Homo sapiens: one gene and its partners. The protein of the gene in region 3 purifies or fractionates together with the protein of the main gene of each other region. This does not show direct contact. Each region holds a gene or a part of one and is shown on either strand. Other genes may lie near its edges.

Region 1 (3,652 bases), on a different chromosome or scaffold from region 3:
CAGAGAGGGAGAGATGGGTACCTCCAAAACTCCTCTCGCCGAGGTGTCTGTGGCAGCTCGGCTGCTGATTCATCTTTGGGGTAAGGGCTGAGAGCCCCTTCATTAAGGGGTATGGTAAAAACAGATGATCTTTAAACTGTGTCCTAAGGACAGTGTATTCAGTGGACTCCCGGGCTTTTGATGGACAGAGTGAGGAAGTGTCTTTGGTTTGCTTCTCCAGAGCCACTCTCTACCTTGTTTGGGGCCCTGGGAACTGACCTCTGTGGAATGTAATGGGCTCCATGCTGCTGGCTTTCAGAGAGGTACACCCAACAGGAAGCATAAATGGGGGACTGAAGGAAAGAGGAAAGATAGTTGAAGTTTATCCCCTGTGAGGTCTCCTGGGTTGACTGGGTCCCTGTACTGATGGCCCACAGCCCCTATCCCTATAGCTGCCCACTTCCCTTGCTCCTTCAGCCCTGAGTGGTAACTGCTCCCAGCCACTGCTAGTCCCTCGGTGCTGCACTATCCCGTGTTGATTTGTCACACGCCTAATGCCTGAGCCAGTCACTCTGGGTTGATGTACCCTCTCTGGCTGTGCCCAGGCAAGGAGACCAAGCACTGCCACTGATGGCCCCTTTTGTAGTCTTCCTCTGTCCAGTCCTCAGAGCCTCCTCTGGTCTTAAAGAAGAGCAGTTTGAAGGGATGCCCATGATTACATGTGCAGGCCTCCTCTGTCCTCTGTCTCAGCCTGGGCCTGGTGGGGCAAGGGGAGCAGACTGGGAGACAGGGAGCGTGGACCAGCCAGTGAAGGAAGGGGCAGGAGGCAGGGGTCAGCTCCCCAGCAAGTGCATGCACCAACAGCTCTTGAGTGCTTAGTTTACGGTAGGCACTGTGCTCCACATACCAGTAATTTTATTTGCTTCTCAGGTAATCCCAGGAAGTCCTTCCTACAAATGCATTTTATAGGAGAAACAACTCGTGCTCAAAGAGATAAAATGATTCTTCCAGGGTCATCCTGCCAGTAAGTGACAAAGCCAGGATCAACATAAGTTTTCTGTCTTCTGTATGGTAGACACGTTGGACAGTGATACCTGGACTTGAGCAAGCCCTGAGAATGACCTTGTATGGCAGGCGCACCTCAATGCAGTTTGGTTCTAAGCTAAGGAATCTGGGAGTAGCCAACCCGGAGATCCACTCCTTATCTATGAGGAACATCTGAGCTCTTGGCCCATCCTATGGAACTTGCGGGCCAAACAGAGGATTGAGGTCTGTGGTTTGGGGTAAATGGAGGTTGCTAGGTGGAAGTTGTTGGGGGAGGTGCTAAGTGAAAATGCTATAGAAATTGCAAGCTTTTAGGCTGGGGGGCGGTAGCTCACAGCTATAATCCCAGCACTTTGGGAGGCTGAGGCAGGCGGATCACCTGAAGTCAGGAGTTTGAGACCAGCCTAACCAACATAGCGAAACTCCATCTCTACTAAAAATACAAAATTAGCTGCGTGTGGTGGCACTTGCCTGTAATCCCAGCTACTTGGGAGGCTGAGGCAGGAGAATCGCTTGAACCTGGGAGGCGGAGGCTGCAGTGAGTGAAGATCGCGCCATTGCACTCCAGCCTGGGCAATAAGAACGAAACTCTGTCTCAAAAAAAAAAACCAAAACCAAAACCAAAAACAAAAAAACTGCACACTTCCTGCGAGTGGTTGTGGTTCTTCGGTCCAGCCAGCAGCCACTGGACTCTCTCCCCTGTGTGTGAGCCCGTAGTAAAACCCCATGGCTCATTCGCTGGCTCTGGGTCTCCTCTTTGGCCTCTTGAGCCTGGTGCCATCCTCACTGGCACTGATAGGGGTTTAGCTCAACACCTAGTAACTACCTTGAAATAATTTTAGTGAACTGGCTCACAATCACAGCAGAGTTGGATGACTTAAGTGGGGTCAATTATCGGTGAGGATTTGCACAGAGGCCTCCAATGTTCCCTGGACACCCTCCCCTAGATTAAAAAAAAAAATCCTCTGACATTCTTCAGTTCTCCCAGGTGGGACAGGGGCCCCAAGCAGGTGGTGCAGTTGGGTGTCCGGGTTGGAAAAACAAGCAGATTCAGACAAGGCTTCATTGTTAAGGAGAGTCTGACACTTTGACCATTAAAGCAAAACTGAGCAAAACAAAATGCTTACTGCCTTGTCTTATCTCTTAGAGAGAAAGGGGACAGTGGGAAGGGCCCCCGGGCTGGGTGTTGATCCCACCCTAACCAGCGCCAGTCTCAGAGACCTGGCCTCAGGTGGCTGGGGCAGGGAGTTCAGGGTCTCAGTCCAGCCCGGCGTCAGGTATGGGGTGGGTGCTTGCCATGTGTGGCCTCGTCTGGCCTCTGTGGCCCTTTCAGAGAGATCGTTATTGTCATTTTTCAGATGAGGAAACTGAGGCTCCGAGAAGACACGCAGGGAGCAGCTGCATGCTGGAACCCAGGTTAACTGGATTACCAAGTCTTCCCACTCCCCTCATCTCTCCAGGCAGGAAGGTCCTGGGGGGAGGAAGCAGCCTCGGAAGGAATGAGCTCCTTGTCCTGGGGATGTGCAAGTATTGTCTTGGGACACTGTGGGAGGTAGGCTGCAGAGGGCAGCCAGGTGGCTCTCAAACTGAAATCACCAGGGGAGCTTCATCAACTACTGATGCCTGGGTCATGCCCCAGAGATTGTGGGGCCTGCAGGACTTTTAAAAGTTTCCCAGATGATTCTAATGTGAAACAAAGTTTGAAAGCCATGGGCTTGGATGCCCACTGCTGCCCTTCCCACCTCTGAAACTCTCCTGCCACACGCCTTTCTAAGGAAAGAAGGGATTTATTACCCTGACCCCATTTTACAAAATGGGCAGAAGCCAAGCAAAATATAAGGGTGTCCTCAAGGCCCCACAGCCAGCAACAAATCGAGGCAGCATGAGGGGTCCCCTGATTTCAGACTGCCCCTGGGGTGAGCTTCTTTAAGACACTTGGGGGTTCCAGCTCCCTTGTCAGTGGGAGAGAAGTTTCTCTTTGAGCCTCCTGGGTGAGAGAGTGAGACATTCTTCGTGGCATTTTTTTTAAAGAGTCCACTCGTTCAAAAGCTAAACAGCTGCAGGATTAACGCTGGAAGACCCCCTCTGCTTGCTGGTGTGCCTTGGGAGCAAGAAGATAAAAGAACTCAAAGCAGGCCTGTTTATCCTTTTCTGCAGGAGATTTGGTCACAAGCCTGGGAAGAGCTGAGCCTGTCAGACCAGCAGCCCACACTTCCTCCCCACCTGCCTTTCCGCCTTCCTCATGCCCTGAAAGCAGAATGTCACAGATGGAGAGATGGTGTGGGTTGGTGGGAAGTGAGAGGCCTGTGGAGTCCACTGGTCCTGGGGTCTGCCCAAGCTCTCCTCCTTGCCAGCTACCTTTGGAGAGGAGCTACTCCTCTCTCAGCTCATTCAGTGCTGATCTCACAGAGGTCCAAAGTCAGCAACATGGGCACCACCTCCAGGAAGGCTTCCCTGACTCCCCTCCCCACCCAGCGCCGGGCAACCCCAGGCCCCTGGCCTTCCCTGTCACATTCTGTGTTGTCACTGCTTCTGTGTCCTCCCAACCCTACCAGGCTGTTCATTCATTCATTCCACGGAGCAGCTGCCCTTTGCCTGGGATTCATTCCAAACGCCTTTCCTGAGCACC
Region 2 (3,239 bases), on a different chromosome or scaffold from region 3:
ACACAGGGGCAAAGGAAGACAGGCCTGATGTGCCCACTCATCTATGGACTCAGAGCTGTGTGCTTTGCTCCTGCATCTTGTTGAGGTGCTGTTCCAGCTTTGCATTTCTGTCAAGTAGAGGCGAATATATAAACAGTGTGGTTGAATACATTTAATGCCAGCCATTGGAAACTAGTTTTAGGCAACCACTCTCAAAAACAGCTTTAGAATTTATGCCCAGTTTTCTTGCATTGAAAGATAACTGAGTAATAACCTGTAACTATTTTTAAATGGCATGAAATTAGGAAACTTTTGTACATTTTATATACATTTTGAGATGAACAGAACAATGGGCTGAGTTATAAAAAGCGTGTATTGAATTTAAGAAGACAGACTAGCACAAAACACAGAATTCGTGTTAACCAAAGGAGGCATTGATTTCAGTTTTAAGGCTACTCAGTGTTGTGTGTCCAGGGAAATTCACAGCTCAGTATGAGAATACCTTGGTTAGTGCTCACCCACAAGCTTCCAGGAGCCAGCTGGGAGGAGACAATAGGAAGAGATGTCATCTCTGCTCTCCCTGTAAATGTTAGTTGAACTAAGTTATGGATTTGTGGTCTTTCAAATACATGACGCCTTTAGTATGCCACACTGAAATGAATAAGAAGTCTTCTGAAACTGGGAACTTCATAACATTGAAGGCAGAAGATTCTGCTAAGGAAAAAAGCAGGCAGGAAAGAAAATGTCTCATCCTTTCTTGAAAGCATTTGCAGAAAATATATCATTTCATTTTATTCCCATCTGTTTTCAAACTCGTGATCTTAAAAGGCATTCTGATGATAAATTTAGAATTTTCATCTATAAAATTTAGAACTCTAATCCATAAAGTTAGAATTGAGCTAATAGAGTGGTATGACATGGCACTAAAAATATAAATTTTTGTTGTAAGTCAGGATTGGAGTAAGCTGGAAAAGTATGTTTAGGCAAATCTTGGAGAAAACCAACCATAAACTTACAGCTCTAAAATTCAGAAAGCCCTAAAATTTCAAACACTGTTTGAAAGAAGAGGTGGGGGCCGGGTGCCGTGGCTCATGCCTGTCATCCCAGCATTTGGGAGGCTGAGGCAGGCAGATCACCTGAGGCCAGGAGTTCGAGACCAGCCTGGCTGGCTAGCATGGTGAGACCGTCTCTACTAAAAATGCAAAAATTAACAGGGCACGGTGGCATGCGCCTGTAGTCCCAGCTACTCGGGAGGCTGAGGCAGGAGAATCACTTGAATCCAGGAGGCGAAGGTTGCAGTGAGCTGAGATTGTGCTGCTGCACTCCAGCCTGGGAGACAGAGCGAGACTCTGTCTTAAAAAAAAAAAAAGGAGGTGAATTTTTTTTTAAGTTTTGTAACACTGTCCTACTTTATTTATTAGAATCTAAGGCTGTTACAATCAAGTCGTTGCAGGGTTTGGATCAGCTGTAAGTTAGGTATGCCTACCAAACATCCAAAGGTAGACGTGGAGACATTTTAATACTACAAAACTAGGAAAATCAGAACTCATGGCCATTTCCTGCCCTCCTCCAACTTGTTAAAACATGTTTATTCTAAAGTTCGAATGGATAAATTTGAGTATAAAGGTTTTGTTATAAAACTGTTCTTTAGTGTAAGGCTGCATTGTGGGTTTGGGGGAAATGTAAATAATTTTCTGTGTAAAACAAATTCATAGGATCTGATTTGCTCAGAGTATTATTCAAGAATGTATTAATAAGGCATTGCCCCCTGTTTGCACTCAGGGTTAATATGTCAAATGAAATTTAAGAAGGAAATGGAAGAATTCAGGTACATTAATTGCATATTATTTTGGGAAAGATGAGTCCTATACGTGGCAATTTTTCAATGTCATCTGAAGCCAGCATTATCTTCCAAAGAAATCGATCTTTTTTTTCTAAAAAAAAAAAATGCTTTTGCCTTCCCTTCCCTTCCCATCCGCCATATTTCTTCAGCCTTTCTTCTCGATCACCCGTGTATTCTTTGACCAGTAAATGACCACACCTCAATGATGGTAAAACAGCATCATCAGTAAGCTATCTTATATGCCTCATCCTGTGAGTTTGAGCTTCAGGAAACATGAGTAAAAGTATATGTAATGTATATAGTCGTATATGTATTCTAGCAAGAAAAACATATTTATTTTGACAAAGGGGAACACTGACTTTCTGAAGGATTCAGAAAGAACCTTAGTGAAAGGTTCTCAGTCTCTGAGAGTGGACCCTAATTAACATAAAGACCATTCATCAGCGAATAACTACTGAGCAACTCTAGTGTGCCAGCACAGGCCAGACATACTAGTGAGCCAGGCACATCTGGCCTTGGGAAACTCATCCTACAGGGGAAGGCCAGTTTTTTTCCCTTCAATTCCTCAAGTCTGGGTGGTGACAAGGTAGGGGCTAGGTACTGGACTACCACAGGTTTTTAGGAACTAAGGTGTTTCTCATAAACACAAAATGTTGGGTGAAACTGGGAACAACTACTCAGAAGCTCATTTATTTGCTTAAATGGAAAGTGTGGGAGCCACTACCCTCTCTTTTGATCTGCCAAGGATTTCCTCTCAGAGCTGTTGCACAGACAGAGATTGTACTTGGTAAGATACCAAACAAGACAGATATGGATCTAAATTTCTAATGTGTTCTATGGGTTTCAATTCTGAAAAAAGAAAATGAATAAAGATTTTAATAAATATTGATATCTGATCTTTTCCTCTTCTTTCCCCCTTCAGGATATTTCCAGTGGTTCCTATTTCAGTTCCCTTCCTGTTAGGGGACAGAAGAAGATTACATCTTTTGTGACCACTTAAACTTCCACAGGGATAGTTTCACAGTACCTGGTGGATTAGACCTTTAAATTTCCTCACCAGTCTTCAAACGGTTCATACTAGATTGTAACTATACCAAAATTTTCTATGGGATCATTGTTAGGTGCTTTTTGTATATTTAATAGTTAACTCCATTTTTGCAGCTTCCTTAGAGGTAAAGAATTATGAATCCTGAAGAACTTGTCAGCACACTACAAAAAAGGCAGGAAGAGAAGGCCAGTTGCCCTAGTAGTACTTCTTAGGACACCTAGATTTTTAACTTTTGAAATAGAATCCAGCATCATAAACCTCAACCAGGTAACTGAGCAAAGCTCTTAAGATTTTTATTGGGCCAGGCACCATGGCTCATGTCTGTAATCCCGGCACTTTGGGAGGCCAAGGCCCGTGGGTCACCTGAGG
Region 3 (3,652 bases):
ACAGAATGAGACCCTGTCTCCAAAAAAAAAGAAAGAAAGAAAAAACGAATACTTGCCTGTGTTACATGTGATACATGATGCACTTTGATATTTTCTTTTCATTCTATTCTGGGTTTTTAAAATTTATTTATTTTTATTTTTTGAGACAGGGTCTCGCTCTATTGCCTAGGTTGTAGTGCAGTGGCATGATCATAACTAACTACAGCCTCAACCTCCTGGGCTCAAGCAATCCTCCAGCATCAGCCTCTCAAGTAGCTGAGATTACAGGCCTATGCCACCACACCCAGCTAACTGGTCTCTTTTTGCTAATTGGTCTTTTTTTTTTTTTTTTTTTTGAGACAGAGTCTTGCTCTGTCACCCAGGCTGGAGTACGGTGGTGCTATTTCTGCTTACTGCAACCTCCAGCTCCTAGGTTCAATCAACTCTCCTGCCTCTGTCTCCTGAGTAGTTGGGATTACAGGCACATGCCACCATGCCTGGCTAATTTTTGTATTTTTAGTAGAGAAGGGGTTTCACCATGTTGGCCAGGTTGGTCTTGAACTCCTGGCCTAAAGTGATCTGCCCACCATGGCCTCCCAAAGTGCTGGGATTTCAGGTGTGAGCCACTGTGCCTGGTCCTAACTGGTCTTTTAAAGAAATTTTTGAATGCTAATTTGCAACACTCTGAATTTATTTTATAATATCACAGTGGATTGTAATCAGCAGTTTGATACAAGCTGGGCTGGGTAAAGCCTCAGTTCCTTACACCAGTGAGAGAAGGTAAGTTTGTGTTCTGGCCGGTGGGGCCAGGGAAGCAAATCCCATTTGTTCAATCTAGGCAGGCTTTTCAGAGAGGATTTCTGGCATCATCTCGGGATCAAAGCCAAGGATGGTCCAAAGAGTTGCAGGCCCAAGGGTAGCTGGAGGAAAAAGACTTGGGAAGAAGTGCTGAGCCACAGCGAGAGGGAAATGAGTGGATGGGGGCTGCGGGCACACTTGCCAGGAAAGCAGGAGGCCAGGTGTGGGAGCCCAAAGGTGAGGGAGATATACAAGACACCAGGGGCGGATCTCGTGAAGCTTTGTACTTGAAACAATAGCAAAGAATAGCAGCTATTCTTTCTCCAAGGCTGGTGGAGGGGCGACCTCCACGACCTTGCTAACCATACTTCTGGGAATCATCTCCTACACAGGGAGCAGAAATCCTTAACCCCAAAGTCCTGTGGCTTGCACTAGATTCTGTGTCTCTTCTAAGGGACTCTTCCTGTTGCCCTCATGCTAAGCAAACAAACTAGAGAATGAGTGCCTCACCACCAAGGCTAATCCCAGGTGTCTCATTTCGGTTCAGGATGTGGTTAGTACCTTGAGGAACTGTAGGTTTGAGAGAGAAAGCTTCAGGCAGCCAGATGGGATTGAGAGATTAGATGCCTAGGAAGAGCTCAATTTAACCCTATATTTCTTTCTCCAGGGAAAATAAAAGAAGCAAAAACAGGCCCTGCTGTGAGGGACCACGAGGCAGTGCCAGGATGAAAGAGTTGGAGTAACCTAGGTGATTCTGAGTGAATCAGTCAGGAGGCCTTCCTGGAGGGGGTGAGTCTTGAGCACTGGCAACAGTTAGTAACTACAATCTTACCATGCCTTTGTTTCTAACTGTGCTCCCTCTTTCTTGCTGGAGTGGGAAGGTAGATGGAAAGTAGCAGGGAAGACGAAGCCTGCAGGACGGTTCAAAGCTGTCATGGCAAACACTCCCCCATTCTGCAGGCCTCTGTGTGGGCTTAGCCGGGACAGTTCCAGAACTGATGAGGTGTCTAGCTCAAGCAAATCCCCCTGTGCTAGCCCCAGCATAGCTCAACCTCTGTGACAAGAAACTCCTGCTACACTGAATCCCCATTTCCTCCCCGAAGCCTTCCTCAAACCCACAGGGAACTCTACCTCTCTCAGCTTAGCTCTTACTGTCTGTGCTATTCTGCTTTAATTTTATTCATTTTTGAATAAGTAATATAGTCAGGGTTCAAAGTACAAAAGAGTATTCAGTGAAAGGTCCTTTTCCTGCTCCTGAATCTCCCCTGGTCAGGTGCTTCCTTCACCTGGTCAGTGCTATCAGTTCTCGTTCTCCAATAAGATTTTCAAATCCCTTGGGGAAAGGAATTGAGCCTTTGTGTCCCTCTGTGTACCAGACGGGGTAAACTGTCCCACCCCATCACCCAAGGGGGTCTTCCTAGGCACCATACCCTCCCTCTTCCATCCACACTGCTACTAACTCTCCTGGGTCAGACTCCGAATGGGTCATCCAGCTGCCAAGCAGGTCCCTTTCCAAGATACCCTCCACCGCTGTCATATTGCTCTTCCTGTAATGCTGGGCTCCCAGCTTAACGCTTTATTACTCCCCATGCCTTGGGTCAAGGGCAAATGCTCCTCAGCATGATGAACAAGGCCCTTAGGACTTGGTTTCAGCCACCTCTGTAGGCCCAATTTCTGCTACTCCTGCCATACCAGACTGCTTACAGTTCTGTGACTGGCTCTTCTGTCTCCCACCTCTAGACCATTGCAGGTACTGTGCCTTCTGCCTGAAATGTGCTCACCTCGCCTCGCTGACTCCTACTCGCCAGTTAGTGTTCGGCCCATTTCTGCCCCCGTGAGATTTCTTCACAGATGTTGCCCTCCCCCATTTGCTGAGTTTCCTGCATGCCGGCTCCTTCAGCACTCAAGGGTACCTCTTTGATTCTGCTTCTCACAGGGTAATCTCTGTTTAAAATCTGATGCCCCCAATTGACTGTAGGATCCTTGAGGGCTGGCCTTGCACTTCTCTGTGTCCCCCGCCTCTTGCAGAGTACCTGGTAGAGGCAGTTATTCAGTAAATACTGGTGGAATAAACAAATCTCTCCTATCTCCTAGACAATAGTTAATACAAAATAGATGCTCAAAGAGATTTCTTTTGTTTGATTTTTGACGGTGCTGCTGAATCTGATGTTATAAAAGAAGCCACATTTGTACCCCAGTCCAGAATGAATCCACCTCCCCACTTGAGATCACGATGGCCACATACTCCCAAGGTCTCAGACACCAGGCCTCTCCACAGGCAGGAGCTTGTGCGTTTAAACAATAGCATTAAATAGTACAACCAGAGTTATTTTTAAGCAAAACATGCAGGGAGTAATGAACGTGGCTTTGGCCAAGGGCCAGGTGCTTGAGGATAACTGCTGGGAAGTGAAGCAGGGATTTATCATAATAATAGAAATAGTTGATACCATTTATTGAGGGCTTAGTGTGACAGGTGCTCTGCCAAACATTTTACCTACATTATCTGATTTAATCCTCCCCACAACCCTGTGAGTTAGGTATTAGTTGCCCCCACTTTATAGATGAGGAAATTGAGGCTTAGAGGGATTAAGTAAATTACCCAAGGGTCACACAGCTGCTAATGATCAAAACTAACACTTTGTGGGAACTTACCATGTGCAGAGACTGCTAAGCTTTGTCCATGAATTTTGTGGGGAAGGAGCATAATCCTTGTAACAACCCTAGGAGGTAGGTGCTACTACTAGAAGAGGAAGAACTGGAATTTGTGCCCAGGTCCCTTGCCATTGATGTCTAGTGCTTAACCAGTGAGCTTATGTGTCCAGAACTCTGCACAGAAAGTTCTGCAAGCATTCATCCTCTAGGGCATGGATCCACA

The links.
Region 1: the proteins of GALNT6 (region 3) and GDPD5 purify together in Homo sapiens (co-immunoprecipitation; one large-scale study listed by IntAct). This does not show direct contact.
Region 2: the proteins of GALNT6 (region 3) and FAM20B purify together in Homo sapiens (affinity purification with mass spectrometry; 2 studies listed by BioGRID and IntAct, with this or other methods). This does not show direct contact.

The regions. Positions count from the first base shown.
Region 1 is NC_000011.10:75,515,835-75,519,486, forward strand, and holds part of GDPD5 (glycerophosphodiester phosphodiesterase domain-containing protein 5), read right to left. Parts: exon of another isoform or gene 3,181-3,652; intron 2,440-3,180; exon of another isoform or gene 2,382-2,439; intron 1,593-2,381; exon of another isoform or gene 1-1,592. UniProt on the Homo sapiens protein: Glycerophosphodiester phosphodiesterase that promotes neurite formation and drives spinal motor neuron differentiation.
Region 2 is NC_000001.11:179,073,857-179,077,095, forward strand, and holds the end of FAM20B (glycosaminoglycan xylosylkinase), read left to right. Parts: 3' UTR 1-2,711; downstream 2,712-3,239. UniProt on the Homo sapiens protein: Responsible for the 2-O-phosphorylation of xylose in the glycosaminoglycan-protein linkage region of proteoglycans thereby regulating the amount of mature GAG chains.
Region 3 is NC_000012.12:51,381,375-51,385,026, reverse strand, and holds part of GALNT6 (polypeptide N-acetylgalactosaminyltransferase 6), read left to right. Parts: intron 1-1,444; exon of another isoform or gene 1,445-1,566; intron 1,567-2,517; exon of another isoform or gene 2,518-2,714; intron 2,715-3,652. UniProt on the Homo sapiens protein: Catalyzes the initial reaction in O-linked oligosaccharide biosynthesis, the transfer of an N-acetyl-D-galactosamine residue to a serine or threonine residue on the protein receptor. May participate in synthesis of oncofetal fibronectin.